Linked DNA regions of Homo sapiens: regions 1, 3, 4 and 5 are each linked to region 2. Evidence: fine-mapped expression QTL. A gene starts in region 2. Each other region holds a variant in brackets. All regions are shown on one strand. Distances are between the middles of the regions.

Region 1 (4,114 bases), 29 kb before region 2:
GAGGCAGAGGTTACAGTGAGCTGAGATTGCACCACTACATTCCTGCCTGGGTGACAGAGCAAGACCCTGTCTCAAAAAAAAAAAAAAGTGGGTATTGTAGTAATGCAGCAAGAGACCAAGAAAAGTAGGAGGTAGTGATCAGAGACCTGGCTGCATAAAAATGAAGATTCGGGAAATGGTGGCGTTAGGACTTCACCATGGTGAAGGTAGAACTCTTAATTTTCATCTTTATTAAATGTGTCTGTTTGCAGTTTTAACCATTGGCATATTTATTTTGTGTTTGTGATTTCTGTGAAATATGAGTACAATAAATACTGATAGTTTGCATTTGTTTTCTAATCTCTCAGAAAGTTGTCAGAAAATGTTCTCTGACTTTTTAGAATTGCTGTGGTCAGGACTGTGGAAGCTGTTGCGATTCCAACTCTCCCTTCTAAGTCCAATCAATTTTGTGCTTTGTAATGTCTATGCCATTCGTGCACCATAGAGGGAAGAAAGCGTTAAAATGGTCGCGTCACAACATCTTGATTTGTCATTGAAGGAGAAGGAGTCTGGAAGGACGCTGACAACGGGTGGTGGTCAGGAAGGAAAACCCAGTGCCTGTGGCCCAGAGGCTGGAGGAGGAACTTCAAGGAGGGATGTTCAGCTCCCTGTGGACCCCCATTTGTTCATCCATACAATGATGCTCTGAGGAGCACACAAGGAAGGTGCAAATTTGATAAAATGTGCATGATGTAAGGAGCATAAACCCCCTCAGGAAAGAGTTGCTGCCTTTTCACTAATGTATCCCTGAGCTGCACAGAGCAGCCCTGGGGGACTGGGAGGACATGTCCCCGGTGTGAGGAGCAGGGGAAAGGTGAGCCTTAAATGATCACCAACAAACAACAGGGCCTGTGTCTGGGGCTTACACCACGACATGTGGTCCTCGCAGCACCATTGCTCAGAGGAAGAAACCAAGATCTCGAGGAACTGAGTAATTTGCCCACGTTCAACAAGTTGGTGCAAAATGAAGAGTGGCTCCCGTATTTCAGACTTTAAGGCCGACGATCTTCCATCTGTGCTCTGGGGGCAAGATGGGAGGTCCACAGATAAAATTGCGGGCGGTATCCCCCATCTCATGGTCTTTACGCTCATGGGACCTGGGAGTGACCATCTTTTAAGAGGGAGGGAAGGAAGGGGAGAGGCTTGAGGAAGGTTTTGGGGATTAGGATCTAAGATGAAATTTGAGACTATAAGACTTCAGATTGGATGCTGTGGCTCATGCCTGTCATCTCAGCACTCTGGGAGGCCATCACCTGGGCTTGGGCCCAGGAGTTTAAGACCAACCTGGGTAACATAGTGAGACCCTGTTTTTACAAAAACAAACAAAATGCCAGGTATGGTAGTGTGCACCTGTGGTCCTAGCTACTCAGAAGGCTGAGGCAGGGGGATTCCTTGAGCCCAGGAGTTTGAGGCTACAGTGAGCTAGGGACACACCACTGCACTCCAGCCTGGGTGACAGAGTGAGACCCTGTCTCAAAAAAAAAAAAAAAAAAAAAGATTTTAAGCTTGCTGCAATTCCAGATGAAGGTAGATCCTGGAGGCACTTTGTGGGAGAGGTCACTACACTTGAGTATTAAAGACTGTTGACAGATCAGAAATCAAGGAACTGACTGACCAGGGTATTGGATGGGTCATTTATGTGGATGTCCAGATGAACCAGTTTGGTGAAAAGACTCAGGATCAAAAGCCAATCTGGAAAGTTGAGGTCAAACTCTCTGTGAAATCTGGGAAGGGATCTGGATTTTTTGGGAAAGGCAGGGAGTGGTTAATAGGCCCAGACTCCCTCAGAAATGGGGAATGTTCTTAGTGCTTCTAAAAGGGAAAAGACTGTTATGGCAAAGACCTGATGCCCCAGACTGGGTTAGAGACCATAAGCTCTCTCATTCATTCATTCACATGTCTGCTAAGCACCTACTGTTTGCCAGGCACCATGCTTGGAGCCTAGGGCTTCACAGAGAGATGACAGCCTCTCTTCTCTCCAGCCAACCCAAGTCAAGAAGGCAAGCATAAACTAGTAAATGG[C/CT]TTTTTTTTTTTTTTTGAGATGGGATCTCACTCTGCCCCCCAGGTTGGATGCAGTGGTGTGATCTCAGCTCACTGCAACCTTTGCCTCCTGGGCTCGGCCAATTTTTTTTATTTTTGGTAGAGACATGTTTCCAGGCTGGTTTCAAACTCTTGAGCTCAAGTGACGCACCCACCTTGGCCTCCCAAAGTACTGGGATTACAGGTGTAAGTCACTGTGCCCAGCCAAGTAAATGCCATTCTTAGAAAAATACTGTAATTGGCATAAAATATAAATTGTGATGGGACACCAAAGAGTGCAGGTTCAATCAGGCCCTGGCCACAGGCCTCTCTCTGAGCTGGAATGGTGATACCCCCCTTCCCGACTTGCATGAGCTCCTTCTGCCATGTCGTTTCTGGTGTTTGTCACTCAAGTGCCTTGTCCTTTCCTAAGGAATAATTTTCCAGGCCAGGGGCGGTGGCTCACGCCTGTAATCCCAGCACTTTGGGAGGCCAAGGAGGGCAGATCACCTGAGGTCAGGAGTTTGGGACCAGCCTGGCCAACATGGCAAAAACCCATCTCTACTAAAAACACAAAAATTAGCCGGACATGGTGGTGATTGCCTGTAATCCCAGCTACTCGGGAGGCTGAGGCACGAGAATCGGTTGAACCCGGGAGGTGGAGGTTACAGTGAGCTGAGATCGTGCCACTACACTCCAGCCTGGGCAACAGAGCAAGTTCTGTCTCAAAAAAAAAAAAAAAAAAAAAAAAAAAAAAAAAAAAAAGAATTTTCCGCAGAACTAAGACATAAAGAAATCTTAGGGCACATAACTTTCATCAAGGGGGAAAAGGGATTGCGCTTTTGTTGAAATGCCAGCCTCCTTCTTTAGCCAATATTTAGCCAGGTGCTGTGGTTCACACCTGTAATCCCAGCACTTTGGGAGGCTGAGGCCAGAGGATAGCTGAGCCCAGGAGTTTGAGACCAACCTGGGCAATACAGAGAGAGCCGGTCTCTCTCTCTCTCTTTTTTTTTTTTTGAGACGGAGTCTTGCTCTTGCCAGGCTGGAGTGCAGTGGCGCAATCTCGTCTCACTGCAACCTCCGCTTCCCGGGTTCAAATGATTCTCCTGGCTCAGCCTCCCAAGTCGCCGGGACTACAGGCGCCCGCCACCACGCCCGGCTAATTTTTTTGTATTTTTAGTAAAGACGGGGTTTCACCATGTTGGCCAGGATGGTCTCTGGTCTCGATCTCTTGACGTCGTGATCCACCCGCCTTGGCCTCTCAAAGTGGTGGGATTGCAGGCGTGAGCCACCGCGCCCAGCCACCGGTCTCTATTTTAGAAAGAAAAAAAGTGTCCTGCAGTCTCTCCCTAGTTCTGCGCCCTCAACCCTGATCTCCCGCCTCCTCCCACAGCCACCGTCTCGAGCTCAGCTTCAACCATGGCCCTCCCCACAGGGCTCCATCCCAAGCCAGAGCGGGTCAGTTCCCTACACAGGGCCCAGCAACACGGTGCCCAAGAAAAAGTGTTTCCAGTGGGACGCATGTCGCCTCCGTGGGTGCTAACTTCTCCCAGTGCCCGTCGGTACGTCCGTCCGGCTGTGCAGTCTCTACTGAGTGCTCAAAGTCCACTTTTAGCCCCAGCCAGCATCCTCTGAGTACCTTGTGCTCGATTCTGAATCCAGCCCTGCTCGGCGACCCTCGTGCAGACGTCCCCGTGCAGCCCCGGTCAGCACCCCGTGGGGACAGCTCCGATCAGCACCCGACGGCGGACAGCTCCTCCCGCGCCTCCCGCCTCGCCCGCCACCCCGCTCCGGGCCGCACCCGGGTTAGGGTTCCTGGGGGGATCCTGGGCGCGGCGGCGCAGCTCCCGGGGCCGCCCCGGCCTCTCGCCCAGAGGAAACAGCCCACGGCGAACCCGAGGCCCGCGGACCCCGGCGCTGCCTCCTCGGCCTCCCGCCCCGCGCGGGTCCTCCAGGGCGGGGCCCGACGCCCACCCGCCCGCCCCTTCCCTCCCGCCCCTCCCCGGGAAAAATCCTCATCGCACGCCCGGCCCTTCCCCAACCAGCGCCCGGCAGT
Region 2 (4,112 bases):
ACATACCTGGGGCTGCCAGCCCTGGTGGGAGGCCCTGGACGTGCACCGCTTCTTGCCCACCCAGGAACCTGAGAGGTGGCGCCACTTGGATGCCACTCAGTGCAGGAGGCACTGAGGCACAGACTCTCAGGCACTGCCCACACTCACCCCAGGGGAAGGCCAGGACAGGGGCCAAGGATCTGGGATCAGGGGTCACCGGCCCTACCTTGCCTGTGCCCAGCAGCAGGGGGCTGAGGTCAAAGCCATCCAAGGTGACATTGGGCAGTGGGGCCCCAGCCAGGGCTGCCAGGGTAGGCAGCAGGTCCAGGGAGCTGGCCAGCTCGTGGGTCACGCCTGGGGGCAGGAGGCTGGTCAGTCACTCAGTTCGCCATCAAGGTTGGGGTGGTGGGGCCAGGGTTCCAAGGAGAGGGCCTGCGGACTGACCGGGAGCGATATGACCTGGCCAGAAGGCCAAGGCAGGCTCTCGGACACCGCCCTCGTAGGTCGTTCCCTTTCCACACCGCAAGAGACCGGAGCAGCCGCCTCGGGACATACGCATGGTCTCAGGTCTGGGACACAGGAGGCGCTCATGAGCCATGGAGCCACAGCCTCTGAGCCACCGAGGGTGACCAGTGGCCCCACACCTCTAAGTCACAAAGCTTGCCCGGAGGTGCCCAGCATGAGCCCGGCACCTCCCAGGCCTACCAAGACCAGCTCTCTGTGCACTGTGTCTCCTGACTACACCTTGGGCCCCTGCAACGTGGCCAGCATCTCCTGGCACCCCCTCACCCACTATGTTCTTGGCAAGCAGCTGAACTGCAAGGCCTCCAGGGCCCTGGCCCGTGACAGGGCCGGAGCACCCAGCTGCCCTGCTGGCATACCCATTGTCTGCAGTGAAGATGACCAGCGTCTCTTCAAGCAGCCCCAGGTCCCCTATGGCTGTCATCAGGGTCCCCACAGCTGCATCCAGCTCCATCAGGGAGTCCCCAAATGGCCCGCGGCCTGAACGCTCTGCAAAGCTCTGCCCACTGAACTGAGGGTAGTGGGTGTGCTGGGGGCAAAGACTGGAGTTAGCACTGGGTAGGGGTCACGGGCAGCCAGGGGGTTGGGCCAAGATCACTTACGTGAGAGGCATAGTACAGGAAGAAGGGGCGATCCTGGCGCTGGGCGTCGGCCATGAGGTCATGGGCGAAAGCCATGTAGCGGGCCTCTAGTCCGGGCAGCCAGGGGGGCTGCGCCTCCACGGACAGGTTGGCCAACAGTGGGATGGGGACCAGGCCCTGGTCACAGCCACCGTCGCAAGGAGTGGCCGGCGGGAAGCAGGTCAGGTTCTGGCAGGGGCCCTGAGGCGGGCAGCTGCCGTGAGGGCTGGGCTGGCAGGTGGGGCTGCGGGAGCATCAAGGGCTGGGGGACTTTGGGAGGTGGGAGGGTGGCTGAGGGCCCGGGTGGTTCCTACCTGGTCGTGGGAGTACGGGATGCCTAGAAATCGATGGAAGCCCTGATGGGGGGGCAGGAAGGCCCCCTCAGGCCCCACCCCAAGGTGCCACTTGCCGGCCATTCCTGTGAGGTAGCCTCGGGCAGCCAGGACTTCGGCCACGGTCACCTCCTCCAGGGGCAGGCCCCCCCGGGAGCTGGGCACCAGGACGCCAGGGTACATGCCCATCCGAACCGGGAGCCGGCCGGTCAGGAGGGCGGCCCTGCGGGACAAGTCACAGAGTCCCTGAGACAGACAGAAATGTGGCCTTCCCTAGAGAGAGAGACAGACGTTTTTCCCGCCCCCCTGCAATCCATTGGGAGGAAAGGGATGGAGGGTCGGGGCGGGGAAGAGGCGCGGCCCCCTCTTTACCTAGAGGGTGTGCACAGAGACACAGGCACGTAGAAGTCTGTGAACCGCAGCCCTCCCGCCGCCAGCTGGTCCAGGTTGGGAGTGGTAGAGCTGGGGTGCCCATAGCAGCCCAGGTCCCCATAGCCGAGGTCGTCGGCAAAGATCAGCACGATGTTGGGCGGACGGGCAACGGCCAGGCCAGCAGCCAGGGCCAGGAGGAGGGACCGCGGTGCCCCCATGGACATGGGACCGAGGGGTCTGTCCCAAGAGAGGGAGGGCTACTTGGCTCCAGCAGGCTCTTTCCGATACCGCAGACCCAGGCGCCGCCCTTCCCTGAGACCCCGGACCCAAATACTCCCCGACCCTGACGGCCGCCTCCTGAAGCTCCAGAGGGCCGGGGCCCGACAGTACCGGGAGACCGCGGGCTGGGACGGAACTCCTCCAGGACCAGGGCACCTTCAGATTCTCGAGCGGAGATCTGATCCTCCTCGCCTAGCGGTCCGGGCTCAGGGTCGGGGGCGTAAGTCACTTGGCGCTGACCAGCGGAGTCGGGCCGGGGGGAAGGCGCTAGAGGGAGCCCAGGAGGAGCCGGTACCGGGCTGCGGGCGCTTCCGCCTCGGCCCCGCCCCGTGACCTGTGACCCTTGCGGGGCGGGGCCGGGGGCGGGGCCGGGGGCGGGGCCGGGGGCGGGCCGGGGCGAGGGGCGTTGCTGCGCGTGCTCGCTCCGAGGCCGCCGTGTGCGCCTGAGGCTGTTGGCTGCGGTCTTGAAACGGGCTCTGGGAGCTTCCTCTGCGCGGTCGGCCCTGGCTGAGGCGTCCCGGGCTGCGCGCGGGGCTCGGCGCTGCGCAGTGTCCGGTGTCCTCTCGGTCCGGAGCTTCTCCAGAGGAGGAGCGGCTCGTGCGCCCCCAGACCTCCGGTACTGGGAGACTCGGGCCCTCCTGTAAGAGACCTGAGCGCGGAGCGTTATGGGCACCCGGTGAATGAGCAAATGGCAGGGAAAACCGTGCAGCCCCATGGACTGCGGGCTCTTCCTTCACGACTAGCAAAAGCTTTGACACCCTTTCTCCTGCGTACGCGTGTCTGTGTGCGTGTAAGCTGTGGCTGGGTGCGGGGGGCTGTGTACGTGTCTGTGTGTGGTGTGTGTGGAGTGTTTGAGGCAGGTGTGTGGTGTTTCAGGTGTGTGTGCATGTGTGGTGTTTGAGGTGTGTGTGTGTGTTTTTGTAGTGTTTGAGGGATATGTGTGTGTGGTGTTTGAGGTGGGTGTGTGGTGTTTGAGGGGTGTGTGTGTGTGGTTGAGGGGTGTGTTTGGTGTTTGAGGGGTGTGTGTGGTTGAGGTGTATGGTGGTTGAGGTGTGTGTAGTGTTTGAGGCACGTATGTGTGTGGTGTTGGGTGTGTGTGGTGTTAGAGGTGTGGCGTATGTGTGTTTGCGGTGGTTGAGGTGTGTGTGTGTGTCTGGTGTTTAGGGTGTGTCTGTTGTGTGCGTGTGGTGGTGGAGGCGTGGTGTGGTGTGGAATGTGTGTCTGGGGTCCAGTCTGGCCTGTTGCAGGGTTACGCTGCTGGGGAAAAACTCATCTGAGGACAACGTGATTGGGTCCTCGCTCCCTCGTTGGGCAGCCTTGGACTTAACCTTTTTGATCTTGAAGGAAAACACAATATGTCACCTCCAAATATATTTCCTTGACACGGTTCAAGACAGTTACTCAGAAGGACTGGAAATAGAAGAATAGCTGAAAAGCTGTCTTTTGTGGGGGAGATTTGCATCTGTGGAGAGAATCTACACTGATGCGGCCAGGCCTCCTCTGAGGCCCTCCTTGCCTGATCTGGGAAGAGTAACAGTCTGACGCCTTTAAAGGCCTGAAGGGAACATTCACCATCTGTTCTCTCTCAGGGCTGCTACCTGTGAGGTTTCATCTGTAGAACAAGGCCACCTTTGCTAGCCAGGCCTCCTCTGCTCTCCCTCCTGTAACCGGTCTTGCCACTGGTCACCTGATTTTCCACCATAAACTGTGGCCATACTTTGAGCCCATGTTCTTTCTGTAACCTCAAGATGGTATATAAGCTTCCGAACCCCATTGGGAGGTTGGGGTCATCACTCTGGTTCTCCCTGTGTGCATGAATAAATCTGTATGCCTTTTTTCTTACTAACCTGGCTTTTGTCAGTTGATTTTCTGTGAACTCAGAATGCAGAAAAGTTTTTCTCTAGGCTCCTACAGTTTTGGTGCAGTCGGTAGGATAACTAAAGTCACTCTCCTGGGAGCCTCCGTCAGGGGAACCCAGGAGCCGACAAGCTGGCAGAAAGAAGGGTAA
Region 3 (4,114 bases), 84 kb after region 2:
AAGAAAGTGAGGTGTCAGAGAAAGCAGGTGCAAGTCGGAGGCTCCTGTCCAGGTGGCTGTTTGCTGCTCGGAGGATGTGGGAGAGGCATGGCCCTGTTGGAGGAAGGGGAGGGAAGGGGTATCCTGTGGGGGAATGGGGTGAGCAAAGGCTGGTGCCTGGAAAATGGAGGGTTGCAGAGCTGGGAGTGAGAGGAAGGGGCTGGGTGGGGACCCTCCTGAGATAGGTGGTGAGAGAGAGAAGAGGGCAGAACACCCCTCCTCCCCTCAGCACTGGGGGCTCCTCATGGTCGCCACATGCATGTCTGCTCGGTTTGTACCAGGAATGTGCTGGGGCCACAGGTCAGTGGAGACCCAGGCCAGGGAAGGCCCTGTGGCGGGTCCAAGCCCTTCCTGTGTATTCACGTTCCCGGGAGAACTCTGGACTTCCCTGTAATTTCTGGGCCCCTTTTTCTTTTGTGATGAGAACATCAGGGTAGGTGCCACACCCAGCATCTATGTGAGTGGCCTTGTCCTGGAAAAGGTTTCTGTGCCAAACACACTTGCCCTGCCTTTTAAGACCGACTTTGAACAGAACACAGAGGTGACCACCTTAATTTTCAGCGACACCTGAACTTGTTTTCTATGGGGTTTTGCCTTTTTTCTGAACAAACGTTTGACTGAGCCAAGCATGATGGAGTTGTGCATATCTGTGTGTGTGTGCGTGTCTGTGCGTTGGTGAGCGGACACGCGCTGTCTGCACCTGCGTGCATGCGGCACACATGTCTGTGCGTGGGTGAGTGGACACGTGCTGTGTGCACCTGCATGCGTGTGGCACACGTGTGTGCATGGGTGAGCGGATACGCACTGTGTGCGCCTGCATGCGTGTGGCACACATGTCTGTGCGTGGGTGAGCAGACGCGCTGTGTGCACCTGCATGCGTGTGGCACACGTGTGTGCGTGGGTGAGCGGATACGCGCTGTATGCACCTGCGTGCATGCAGCACACGTCTGTGCGTGGGTGAGCGGATACGCGCTGTGTGCGCCTGCATGCGTGTGGCACACGTCTGTGCGTGGGTGAGCGGATATGCAGTGTGCGCCTGCATGCGTGTGGCACACGTGTGTGCGTGGGTGAGCGGATACGCGCTGTGTGCCCCTGCGTGCATGCAGCACACATGTCTGTGCGTGGGTGAGTGGACATGCGCTGTGTGCACCTGCATGCATGTGGCACACACACACAAGTCCCTGCTTGTGGTTGTTTCCTCCTTGGCTTTCAAGGCATGTACCAACTGACTCCAGAGTTGGGCAGATTTGCTATTCACGGTCTGATAAAGAGGTGTAGGCTGGGGGCAGATTTGGGAGGTCATGGTTTTTGGGGGAGGTGGTGGTGAGAGGGATGGGGTGGGGAAATGAGTGTGGATAATGGGGCCCGGGTGCCGAGCCTGCCTCTTACTCCCTTTACTCTGTTTCTTGATTCCAAGCCTCCATTCGGAGAAGAAAAGGGGGTGAGTCATCTGCCTGTGTCCCCAGGGCCTTGGCTTTGCCTGACCCCTGTCTGGGGGAGTGCTGGTGTGTGAGGAGGTTCCAGCGCAAGTCAGGGTGGCCTGGAAGCCTGGGCTGCACCCTCCTGTTGGCCTTCTCCCTGGGCATCTGGTAGGGGCATGAGAGAAGGGCCTGCAAGGATGGATGGGGAGTTCCCAGGGGTGTGACCCTCTGAGACTGTGATGGCCTTGGGGGCTCAGGTGAGCCTGGGGCCTGTGAGCTGTGCAGATAGCCTGATGGAGGCAGCCCGTGGGGAGGAGCTGGGAGAGCCCCGTGGAGGCCACTGCATGCACCATGGCCCGGACAGCAGGAGGGAAAGGGCTCCGAGGGTCCCAGAGGGGGAGCTCTAGGGAGCAGGGAGACTGGGCCGTGTTGGCGTGCACGTTGCTTCTTTCTGCTGGTCCTCTCGGGGCCTGTGCTTGGGTTGTGGGACCTACTCCCGTGCTGGTTGGTTGTAGGGCCAAGCCCAGAGCTGATGGTCCCTTCAGAGCAGGGGTCTGAGTCCCACAGCACTGGGGAAGGAGCTTGGAGCTCCCCTGGCCAAAGACCCCAGGCTGTTGACTACCCTCCTGAACCCCCGTTCAGGCCTCCCTCTACCCTTTGGGGCTGCTCCCTGTATGTCCTTTATGTTCAGCCTGGTTGCAGGGGAGGGCGCATTCAGGTGGGG[A/G]CAGTCACCTGGGCCTGGGTACTGAGGTCCACTGTCTGGTGAAGTCCTGGGACCCGGCTTCCGGCAGCCTCCTCTGCCTCTCGGGTGGATGGGAATCAGGGCCCAGACAGAGGCTTGAGGTGGCTTTCTCCACCCAGGCCTGTATATTTGCTCCACGTCCGTGTACCTGATGCCCATCCCTCCCTCTCTCTCGACCCACTGGGCTTTCCCTGGGTGAGGACACATCTGCCAGGCCCTTGGCCCAGCCCTCTTGAGGTCCCCTTGCTGCCTCTTGCCCCAGCCCAGGTGAAGGGCTTCCCCAGTGTCTTCTCAGGTATTAAAAACAGGTGACAAGGTCTCCTCCAGTGACCTTTTCTGCATGCCTTTGGGGCAGACATACAAGCTATTTCTGGAATCTTCTGGCTCTGCCCTCTAGCTCGTTAGTGGGGCTCCCAGGGTGCTGTGTTGCAGCCCAGGTGCTGCTCCAGTTGTGGAAGAAGTGATGGCTGGTTGATCATCCCGCAGGCTGGGGCCCTGTTGATCAAACAGCTGCAAACCCAGCTGTGTCCTGCTGTGCACCCAGAGGGCCCTGGGAGTGAGCGGGTCCACTTGGTTCCTGATGGGCTTTGTTTCCCTTAATTATCTAAAATTATTTATTTAAGAATATATCCTCTAATATTGGGGGGAGATTTATGTCAACCTCATCAGTTTGTAATTTGCAGAATTCTTGATGAATCCTTTCCCTTTTGAAAACACTTCTCACCCGGCTCCAGCACCATCGCCGGATGACCAGAAACAGCTGCTCACTAAACGTTATGTGCGTCCCGCTGTGGGTCTCTGGGATGGGTCTTCCAGACCTAGAGAGACAGCCTCTCCTAGCCCGTGGCTCAGGCGGCAACGTGTCTCCCATGATGCTGAGCCGTGTGTGCCTCACGGAGTTTTCTCTCCATTCATATCTTTACTTCTGCAGTTTCCGGGGAGTATGGTGCTTAAGTCTCATCTCTTACTTCCTAGTCAGAGATTTATGGCAATTTCGCTTCAGTTTGCTCCTGGGTTGGATAAGGGTGATGATAAAATCCTCGTGTAGTTGTGGGATGAGAGGAGTGGTTTGCATAAAGTCCCGCATACTCTAGAAATCACCAAGAACTTAACAGATGGTGGCAATGGTGACTTCAACTCCCAAAAAGAAATCATTCACTTCATGACAAAAGCAAATGAGAAGTCCCCTCAAACCAGCAGCCCCTGGTCTGTACCTGGGCCCCTGTCACCTGGTGGCACTGGGAGCTGTGCACAGGCCCAGATATCTGCAGTTGGAGCCTGTTTTGCTGGTAAACTCTTGTATCGTTCAGGACACAGGCTGGGCGCTGATGGAACACAGAGAACAGTATTTGCTCTGTTCTGCAGACCCGGAAGCTGTCTGGGGAGATGGGGCACACAGACATGAATTGTACTGAATTGTGTCCAGTGCCAGCACAGTTGTAAGCCTTTCTTCTGTGCTAATTCTCACTAGAGACACGTGAGCGAGCACTGTTTTTATGCCTGTTTTATCAATGAGGACACAGAGGTCACAAAGAGGTTATGTCAGGACAGAGTCAGTGTACAGGGTGGGTCTGGTCTGGGTTGGGTACAGGACAGTCTTGGGGAGTTCCTTCCTTCCAGCAATGCTAAGCTTGGGGAGTTCCTTCCTTCCTTCCAGCAATGCTAAGCAGATTGCAGAGGTAGAATCAGCAGGTGCTGTGAACAGCTGCAGATTGGAGTTGGAAGGAGTAGGAGGTGTCCAGTCTGACCGTTGAAATTCTCCAACAAGGGGCCAAGACAAGAGTGAAAGGTGCCAAGACAAGTGTGGCCAGACAGTGGTCCCTCTAGGGTTGGCATAGCCCCAAAGAGTGGAGAAGGGCTTGGGGTTGGGTGCAGCCTGAGTGATGGGTGGGGTGCAGTGGGGCTGCTGAAT
Region 4 (4,114 bases), 36 kb after region 2:
GCGAAAACCTGTGTATTTTGTGTTTCTCTACTAAAAATACAAACATTAGCTGGGCATGGTGGTGTGTGCCTGTAGTCCTAGCTACTCAGGAGACTGAGGTGGGAGGATAGCTTGAGCCTGGGAAGTTAAGGCTGCAGTGAGCCAAGATCATGCCACTGCACTCCATCCTGGGAAACAGAGTGAGACCCTGTCTCAAAAAAAAAAAAAAAAAAAAAAAAAAGAGGTGATTTTCTATACTATCAACAATTAGAAAATGAGGCTGGGCACGGTGGCTCATGCCTGTAATCCCAGCATTTTGGGAGGCCGAGGCAGGTGGATCACCTGTCAAGAGTTCACGACCAGCCTGGCCAACATGGTGAAACCCTGTCTCTACTAAAAATACAAAAAATTAACCGGTGTGGTGGCGGATGCCTGTAATCCCAGCTACTCGAGAGGCTGAGGCAGAAGAATCACTTGAACCCGGGGGGCAGAGGTTGCAGTGAGCCAAGATCATGCCATTGTACTCTAGCCTGGGCAACAAGAGTGAAACTCCATCTCAAAAAAAAAAATTAGAAAATGAAATTAAAATTATATTAAAATTTTTATTTGTAATACATGAAATAACACAAAATTTTTAGGAATGGATTTAGCAAAAATGTGTAAGAATGCTACACTGAAAGCTACTAAACATTGCTGAGATAAATTAAAGAGGACCAAAATATGTGGGAGGCTGAGGCAGGAGGATTGCTTGAAGCCAGGAGTTTGAGACCAGCCTTGGCAATAAAGCAAGACCCTGCCCCTACAAAATAAATAAACAAATAAATACATGAGGAAATATACTATGTTCATATAATAGAAAACTCAATATTATTAAGATGTCTATTCTCTCAATATATTTACAAATTCAGTGCAATACCAGTCAAATTCCCAGCAGGCTTTCTTGGGGAGTTAGAAATTGACAAGTTGATCCTAAAATTTATATAGAAATAAAAATGACCTAGAATAACCAACAAATTAAAAAAGAACAAAGTTACAGGACTTATCTGCTTTCAAGACTTACTATAAAGTTACAGAAATTAAACAGTATGGAATTGAAGAAAGTTATAAATATAGATCAAAGGAAAAGAATAGAGACAGAGTCCAGAAATAGACCCACACATATGTGGACAACTGATTTTCAACAAAAGTGCAAAGGCAATTCAGTGGAAAAGGAAGTCTTTTTAAAAATGGTGCTGAGAGGTCCCTAGAATAGTCAAATACATGGAGACAGAAAGCAGAACTGTGGTTCTAAGAGCTGGGTGGAAAGGAGACTGGAGGACTTATTGTTCAGTGAGTATAGTTTAATACGGGGTGATGAAAATGTCCTGGAGATGGTGGCGAATTCACTTAATGCCACAAAATTGTATACTTAAAAATTGTTAAAATGGTAAATTTTGTTATGTATATTTTACCACAATAAAAACTAAATTTAAAAATCTTAAAAATGGTTCTGAAACAACTGGACATGCTCCCCCCAAAAAAATATGAACAGCTACCTTTTCTTGATACCAAAAACAAAAATTAACTTGAAATTAATGACAGGCCTAAATGTAAATGCTAAAACTACACAGCCTGGGCAACATGGTGAGACCCCCATCTCTTTTTTTTTGAGACGAATTCTCGCTCTGTAGCCCAGGCTGGAGCGCAGTGGCGTGATCTCGGCTCACTGCAACCTCTGCCTCCTGGGTTCAAGTAATCCTCCTGCTGTAACGCAGGCGTGCGCCAACGTGCCCACCTAATTTTTGTATTTTTAGTGGAGACGGGATTTTGCCATGTTAGCCAGGCTGGTCTCCAACTCCTGACCGCAGGTGATCCATGCGCCTTGGCCTCCCAGGAATTACAGGTATGAGCCACCACGCCTGGCCCCCCATCTCTTAAAAAAAAGAAATAAAATAAAACTATAAAACACAGGAAAATATTTTTGTGATCTTGTGGTAGGCAAAGATTTTTTAGAGTGAACCCAAAGAATATGAGAACGATTAAACAAAAAAGATAAA[T/C]TGAATTCTATAATAATGCAAGACTTTTGTTCTTTGAAAGAGGCTATTACAAAAATGAAACGGCAAGCCAAGAAATTAGAGAACTTTTGCAATACATATATCTTATAAAAACTTGTATCCAGGGCCAGGCGCGGTGGCTCACGCCTGTAATCCCAGCACTTTGGGAGGCCGAGGCGGGCGGATCACGAGGTCAGGAGATCACGACCATCCTGGCTAACACGGCGAAACCCCATCTCTACTAAAAATACAAAAAAATTATCTGGGTGTGGTGGTGGGCCACTGTAGTCCCAACTACTCGGGAGGCTGAGGCAGGAGAATGGCGGGAACTCGTGAGGTGGAGCTTGCAGTGACCTGAGGTCGCGCCACTGCACTCCAGCCCGGGCGACAGGGGGAGACTCCGTCTCAAAACAACAACAACAACAAAAAACTTGTATCCAGATTATATAAGGAGCTCCTAAATTTTAATAACTCAAACCACTCAGTTTTTAAAAATGGCAATAGACTAGAACAGACACTTCACGAAAGAAGCTATGTGAATGGCCAATAAGCCATTCCCCAGCAGCCCGGACGTCCTTCTTGTGGTATGGCCGACTCTCTGGCTTTTGTTGGCTTCTTCATCTCTGATCCCATCTGCGTCATTCCAGTCATAACCCATTTGATGGTTCTAACATGAGGATGGATTTATTATTTAAAAATATACATAGTTCTAGGGCCAGGTGTGGTGACTCATGCCTGTAATCCCAGCAATTTGGGAGGCCGAGGTGGGTGGATCACTTGAGGCCAGGAGTTCGAGACCAGCCTGGCCAATATGGTGAAACCCCATCTCTACTAAAACTACAAAAATTAGCCAGGCATGGTGGTGCATACCTATAGTCCCAGCTACTAGGGAGGCTGAAGTATGATAATTGCTTGAACCTGGGAGGCAGAGGTGGCAGTGAGCCGAGATTGTGCCATTGCACTCCAGCCTGGGCGACAGAATGAAACTCTGTATCAAAAAAAAAAAAAATATATATATATATATATAAAATTTTTAAATCTTTAATTTTATAAGACTAGTCAAGCGCAGCACTGATAAGGGGAAATCAGTAGAACAGGGAATTCATTCTTTTTGTCTCTCCTGTGCTGTACCCTTAAACACGGTTATGATGGTGAACTGCATGTTATGTGCTTTTCACTACAATAAAAATAGGTACATAGATCTTAAATTGTCAGTGGCCTTTGAGAGAGTGGAGAGGTAAACACAGGCAAAACACATCGTCTTGAATGAAAAGATACTCGGAACCCTAAATGTGAAATTAACTAGACAAATATTTCTCACTTTTAATTTCACGTTTTTTTTTCCTTTGAGACAGGGTCTCGCTCTGTCTCCCAGGCTGGAGTGCAGTGGTGTGATCTCGGCTCACTGCAGCCTTGACCACCCAGGCTCAGGCGATCCTCCTGCCTCAGCCTCCCAAGTAGCCGGGACCACAGGCACGCGCCACCACGTCTGGCAAATGTCCGTAATTTTGTAGAGACGGGGCCTCACTTTGTTGCTCAGGTTGTTCTTAAACTTCTGAGCTCAAGTGATCTGCTCACCTTGGCTTCCCAAAGTGCTGGGATTACAGGTGTGAACCACCTTGGCCGGCTAATTCCACATTTCAATGTTAAAACAGTATTTTAAATTTAACACTCTTTCTAAGAATATACAACAAAGATCAGCCATCCCTTTACGCTGCTGTTTTGCTGCTAGATATGGAGAACACACTCATCAGAATACACTCCAAAATCTGAACTAGCTTTGATGATGATAAAATTTAGAGTGTTTACCAGGTACTAGGCATGTGCTAAGCATTTTACACACACGTACCTCATCTAGTCCACACAATGGCCCAGGAGGCTGAGAACTGACCTGTGAGCCTCTGAAGGCAGACACCTTGCATCTCAACCAGGCCTGCCATCTGGCCAGAATGAATGAGGAAATGAAACAGTTTGTACTATAGTCCCCAGCTTAGCTGAGCACACACGGAGACATAGGAAGGCTAGGAAGCTTTCCTAGGCCACCTGGGTATTTGGTGGCTGAGCTGGGCATTTGCTCCAAGTCCAGCTCTTGAACTTCTCTG
Region 5 (4,114 bases), 20 kb before region 2:
TCTGTCCTGCCGGGTCTCCCAGGCACCGAGTCCTTTGGCCTTTTCTCCTGTCTGGTCAACGGCGAGGAGCGAGAGCAGACTCACCGGGCTGTGTTCAGGTACGGCCTCCCTCCTTGCTGGCGGTGGCCCCAGCCTCAGTCCCTGCCATCACGGAACGCCAGTGGACACGACCGTCAATCCCGCCCCCCTCCCCAGTGACCTCTCCCCCAACGGCAGGTTCATCCCGCGGCATCCAGACGAGCTGGAGCTGGATGTGGATGACCCTGTGTTGGTGGAGGCCGAGGAGGACGACTTCTGGTTCCGTGGCTTCAACATGCGCACGGGGGAGCGCGGTGTGTTTCCTGCCTTCTACGCCCATGCGGTGCCCGGCCCTGCCAAGGACCTGCTGGGTGAGGTCCCAACCCCGAGGGGAGGCTTTTCACCCCAGATCCTCCCCTGTGCCCCTGCCTGACCTGGGCCCTCTGTGCCCCGCTCCCCAGGGAGTAAGCGGAGCCCCTGCTGGGTGGAGCGCTTTGACGTGCAGTTCCTGGGCTCCGTGGAGGTGCCCTGCCACCAGGGCAACGGCATCCTGTGTGCAGCCATGCAGAAGGTCAGTGTGGAGGCCGGGCAAGTGCAGGCTGAGGGTCCGCTTGGCGGCCACACCAGCACTGCAGGCTGGCACAGGGCTTGAGGCTCCAAGGTCTGAGGTCTGATTTCCTCCAGGGAGGGTCTGGGGGATGCTGCAGGGGGAGCTCGGGGTGGGTACCCCAGGCCCTGGTTCAGAGGCCTGAGCAGGTGAGTCTAGGGCAGAGCACAGCAGCTGTCCCTCATCACCTCTGGGTCTCTGGGCCACAGATCTTCCAGGTGGCCCCGACTGCCATCAGCCCTTCCTCTTCCCATCTGGAATCAAGACCAGCCCTCACAGCCCCTTCCCTGGGAGCCCTCTACTCATCCACTCACTCAGTGGACGTTTAGTGAGCACCTGCCCAGGCACCAGTACTGAGGCTGAGGCTGGGGGGCAGTAGGGAGCAGGGCAGAGCAGCCCAGGGCGGGTGAGGTCTCTGTTCCTGGCTCCTGAGCCAAGCGCAGCAGCCTGCCTGGAGGAGCAGAAGGAAGATGAAGCAAGCTGACTGCAGAGAGGCGATTGCTCCTCCTGAGCCTGAGGAGTGGCCAAGGCCACACCCCTTATGTCTTCCAGAATTGCATCTCAGGGTCCTCAGCATGTGTGTCCTCAAACATAAGCTAAAAGGAGCAGAGGCGTAGTCCCACCAAGGGGAAAGAAAGGCCCTTGTGGGCTCCTCAAGACCCTCTTCTCCCCCAACTTCTTCTGTAGATTGCCACTGCCCGGAAACTGACCGTCCACCTGCGCCCTCCTGCCTCCTGTGACCTCGAGATCTCTCTTCGGGGGGTCAAGCTGAGTCTGAGCGGAGGAGGGCCCGAGGTGGGAGTGTGGGGGACTGGGGACCGGGGACTGGGGGATAGGGTTAGGCCACGGAGTCCGACGGGGCCAGGCTGGCAGGGGTGTCCAGTAGGTGGGAGGCAGGGGTGGCGCCAGGCCTCCTTTGACACAGGGACTTCTGCCCACCTCTGCTCTAGTTCCAGCGCTGCAGCCATTTCTTCCAGATGAAGAACATCTCCTTCTGCGGCTGCCATCCCCGCAACAGCTGGTGAGAGTCTGACCGTCCCCGAGTCCCCCAACCGCCCCCACAAACCCTGAGAGTCCAACCGCCCCCTGAGTCCCCACAGACCCTGAGGGCTGCCCGTGCCCAGCCCTGAGAGCTCCACCTGCACCCACTTAGCTCTGTGAGCTGAGCCTGCAGTGGCGCCTGCTCTGAGCTGGACTCAGGAGGCGTGGGTCAGACAGGCTTGCATCCAGTCTGGGTGGAGAGAGGCACACGGGCGAAGGATGTGAGAAGCCTGTGTGGGTGCAGAGGACGCCTGAGTGGGCCTGGGGCTCAGGATGGCCAGCCTGGAAACACAGCAGGTGACAGCGGTGGGGAAGTGGATCTTCCTGGTGGGGTCTAGCTGAGCCAAGGGTGTGGGATGCACTGGTCGGGGGCTATATAGGCTCTGGGGCCCGCGTGTAAGGGGAGCAGCTAGAAATGCCGGGGAAGACCTGGACCCTTTTGATTATGCCAAGGAGCTGTACTTAATCTTGCTGGTAATGAGGCCATAGAAGGCTCCTAATGGAAGGAGGTGACACAGGGGACCTGGGGGCTGCTGAGGTTATACAGGTGCTATGTCCTGAGACCAAGTGTGCAGATGCAAGAGGCACTGAAGAGGCAGTACAGGCAGGACCTAGGTTGACCGGCTGTAGAGGGTGACCTGGAAGAGACCAGGGTG[A/G]CGTCTCCCTGGGGGATGGTTGTACTGCAGCCCACACACCGAGAGGGGATGCGGGATCAATCACAAACGGTGAGACTGAAGTGGCCGTTGGTCCCATGGGTCTGGAGTTTAGGAGGGAGACCTGGAGGGAAGATACCAGGTCAGAGCAGGTAGATCACTGAGACGAGAGGGGAATGGCCAGGCAGGGTGAGGGGAGGAGGGGAGGAGGAGGTGCTGGCATAGGAGCAGCAGGCCAAGGGGGGCTGCCAGCTTCCCTCCAGGCACAGGCCCCTGCCCTCTGTGTCCCAGCACCCTAGAGGAAGGAGATCTGGGAGGAACCAGAGAGGCAGAGCCAGCCAGAGGCTGGAAAGGACTTGCGGGGAGTTGGAGGAAGCAGGCTCACAGACAGGCAAGACACAGCAGGGCACGGTGCTGCCAGGACTGAGGCGTGGGACAGACGTCAGTGCATCTTGGGGGCCTTGTGGACTCTCCCTGTGGTCGAGAGTGAGGGTGCTGCCTGCTGGAAGGTGCGGAGCCCTTTTGTGTTGTCCCCGCCGAGTGCAGAGATGGTCTGATGGGATCCATGCGGAAACGCTGCTCAGTGGGGTGGAGAGGTGGGACAGCGGGCAGCGATGCAGACCAGACTGCGGGGCCAGCTCTGGGGTGGAGAGGTGGGACAGCGGGCAGGGGCGCAGACCAGACAGCGGGGCCAGCTCTGGGGTGGAAAGGTGGGACAGTGGGCAGGGGCGCAGACCAGACAGTGGGGCCAGCTCTGGGGTCACCAGGACAGCGAACGGGGCGCAGACCAGACAGCAGGGACAGCTCTGGGGTGGAGAGGTGGGACAGCGGGCAGGGGCGCAGACCAGACAGCGGGGCCAGCTCTGGGGTGGAGAGGTGGGACAGTGGGCAGGGGCGCAGACCAGACAGTGGGGCCAGCTCTGGGGTCACCGGGACAGCGAACGGGGCGCAGACCAGACAGCAGGGACAGCTCTGGGGTGGAGAGGTGGGACAGCGGGCAGGGGCGCAGACCAGACAGCAGGGACAGCTCTGGGGTGGAGAGGTGGGACAGTGGGCACGGGCGCAGACCAGACAGTGGGGCCAGCTCTGGGGTCACCGGGACAGCGGACGGGGCGCAGACCAGACGGTGGGGCCAGCTCTGGGGTCACTGGGACAGCGGACGGGGCGCAGACCAGACAGTGGGGACAGCTCTGGGGTCACTGGGACAGCGGACGCTGCCAGGAGAGGAAGAATGACCCAAATTTCTCATCAGAAGGAAACTGGGTGAAGCTCAGGTCTCAGGCTGGACAGGGCCCCAGCTAGAATTTCGTGAGAGGAAGGTGGTCAGTCGAGTTTGGGGTTTGGAGTCAAGATGTGGCAGGGGTGTGGGAGGAGGTGGAGGAGCTGCTGCCCTGGCCCAGACCTTCCTAATATTTGTCACCCCAGACCCCCCGTCCCCGGTCCCTTGCCACGAGGAGGCACGGACGAAACCGTGTGAGGTGAACGATGAACTCGTTTCTTCATGGCGGTGGTGGTAGGTCAGGAGAGCGTGGGGTGTGCTGTGTTGGGATCTGGCATTAGGATGTCTGGTGTTGGGATCACAGACTGTAGCCTTTTCTCCCAGGGCTGCCCATCCTGCCTGTGTGTCCTGGGCAAGCTCCTGAACCTCTGTGCCTAGCTCTCCATCAGGGCCCTACCTCAGAGGGCTGTTGTGAGGCTTCTGTGAGTTAATGGAAAGGGCAGAGGATGGTGCCTGAGTAATGCAGGAAGCCAGATCTGTGGGTCGGCGCTTATTACCATCATGACTTGAACGCGG

Evidence for each region.
Region 1: its variant is fine-mapped to the expression of ARSA in macrophages (Alasoo 2018, PIP 0.95).
Region 3: its variant is fine-mapped to the expression of ARSA in monocytes (TOPMed, PIP above 0.99).
Region 4: its variant is fine-mapped to the expression of ARSA in whole blood (INTERVAL, PIP 0.97).
Region 5: its variant is fine-mapped to the expression of ARSA in whole blood (INTERVAL, PIP above 0.99).

What each region holds. Positions count from the first base shown.
Region 1 is chr22:50,596,490-50,600,603 of GRCh38, forward strand. No RefSeq gene overlaps it. Among named protein-coding and RNA genes, the nearest start is that of MAPK8IP2, 2.2 kb to the right of the region's middle. RefSeq lists a silencer at 3,714-3,893. The variant C/CT (reference allele first, on the strand shown) is at 2,062.
Region 2 is chr22:50,625,731-50,629,842 of GRCh38, forward strand. It overlaps ARSA (arylsulfatase A), which reads right to left and starts at 2,422. Exons shown (of 8, transcript NM_000487.6): 1 at 1,826-2,422; 2 at 1,436-1,676; 3 at 1,104-1,322; 4 at 861-1,030; 5 at 424-548; 6 at 206-333. The coding sequence starts at 2,049. RefSeq lists an enhancer at 600-1,382 and a silencer at 2,317-2,506.
Region 3 is chr22:50,710,159-50,714,272 of GRCh38, forward strand. It overlaps SHANK3 (SH3 and multiple ankyrin repeat domains 3), which reads left to right. Exons shown (of 25, transcript NM_001372044.2): 21 at 1,457-1,480. Among named protein-coding and RNA genes, the nearest start is that of ACR, 26 kb to the right of the region's middle. The variant A/G (reference allele first, on the strand shown) is at 2,185.
Region 4 is chr22:50,661,978-50,666,091 of GRCh38, forward strand. No RefSeq gene overlaps it. Among named protein-coding and RNA genes, the nearest start is that of SHANK3, 8.8 kb to the right of the region's middle. The variant T/C (reference allele first, on the strand shown) is at 2,016.
Region 5 is chr22:50,605,346-50,609,459 of GRCh38, forward strand. MAPK8IP2 (mitogen-activated protein kinase 8 interacting protein 2) reads left to right here. Exons shown (of 12, transcript NM_012324.6): 6 at 23-98; 7 at 217-389; 8 at 480-589; 9 at 1,313-1,420; 10 at 1,576-1,646. Among named protein-coding and RNA genes, the nearest start is that of MAPK8IP2, 6.6 kb to the left of the region's middle. RefSeq lists an enhancer at 3,882-4,114. The variant A/G (reference allele first, on the strand shown) is at 2,323.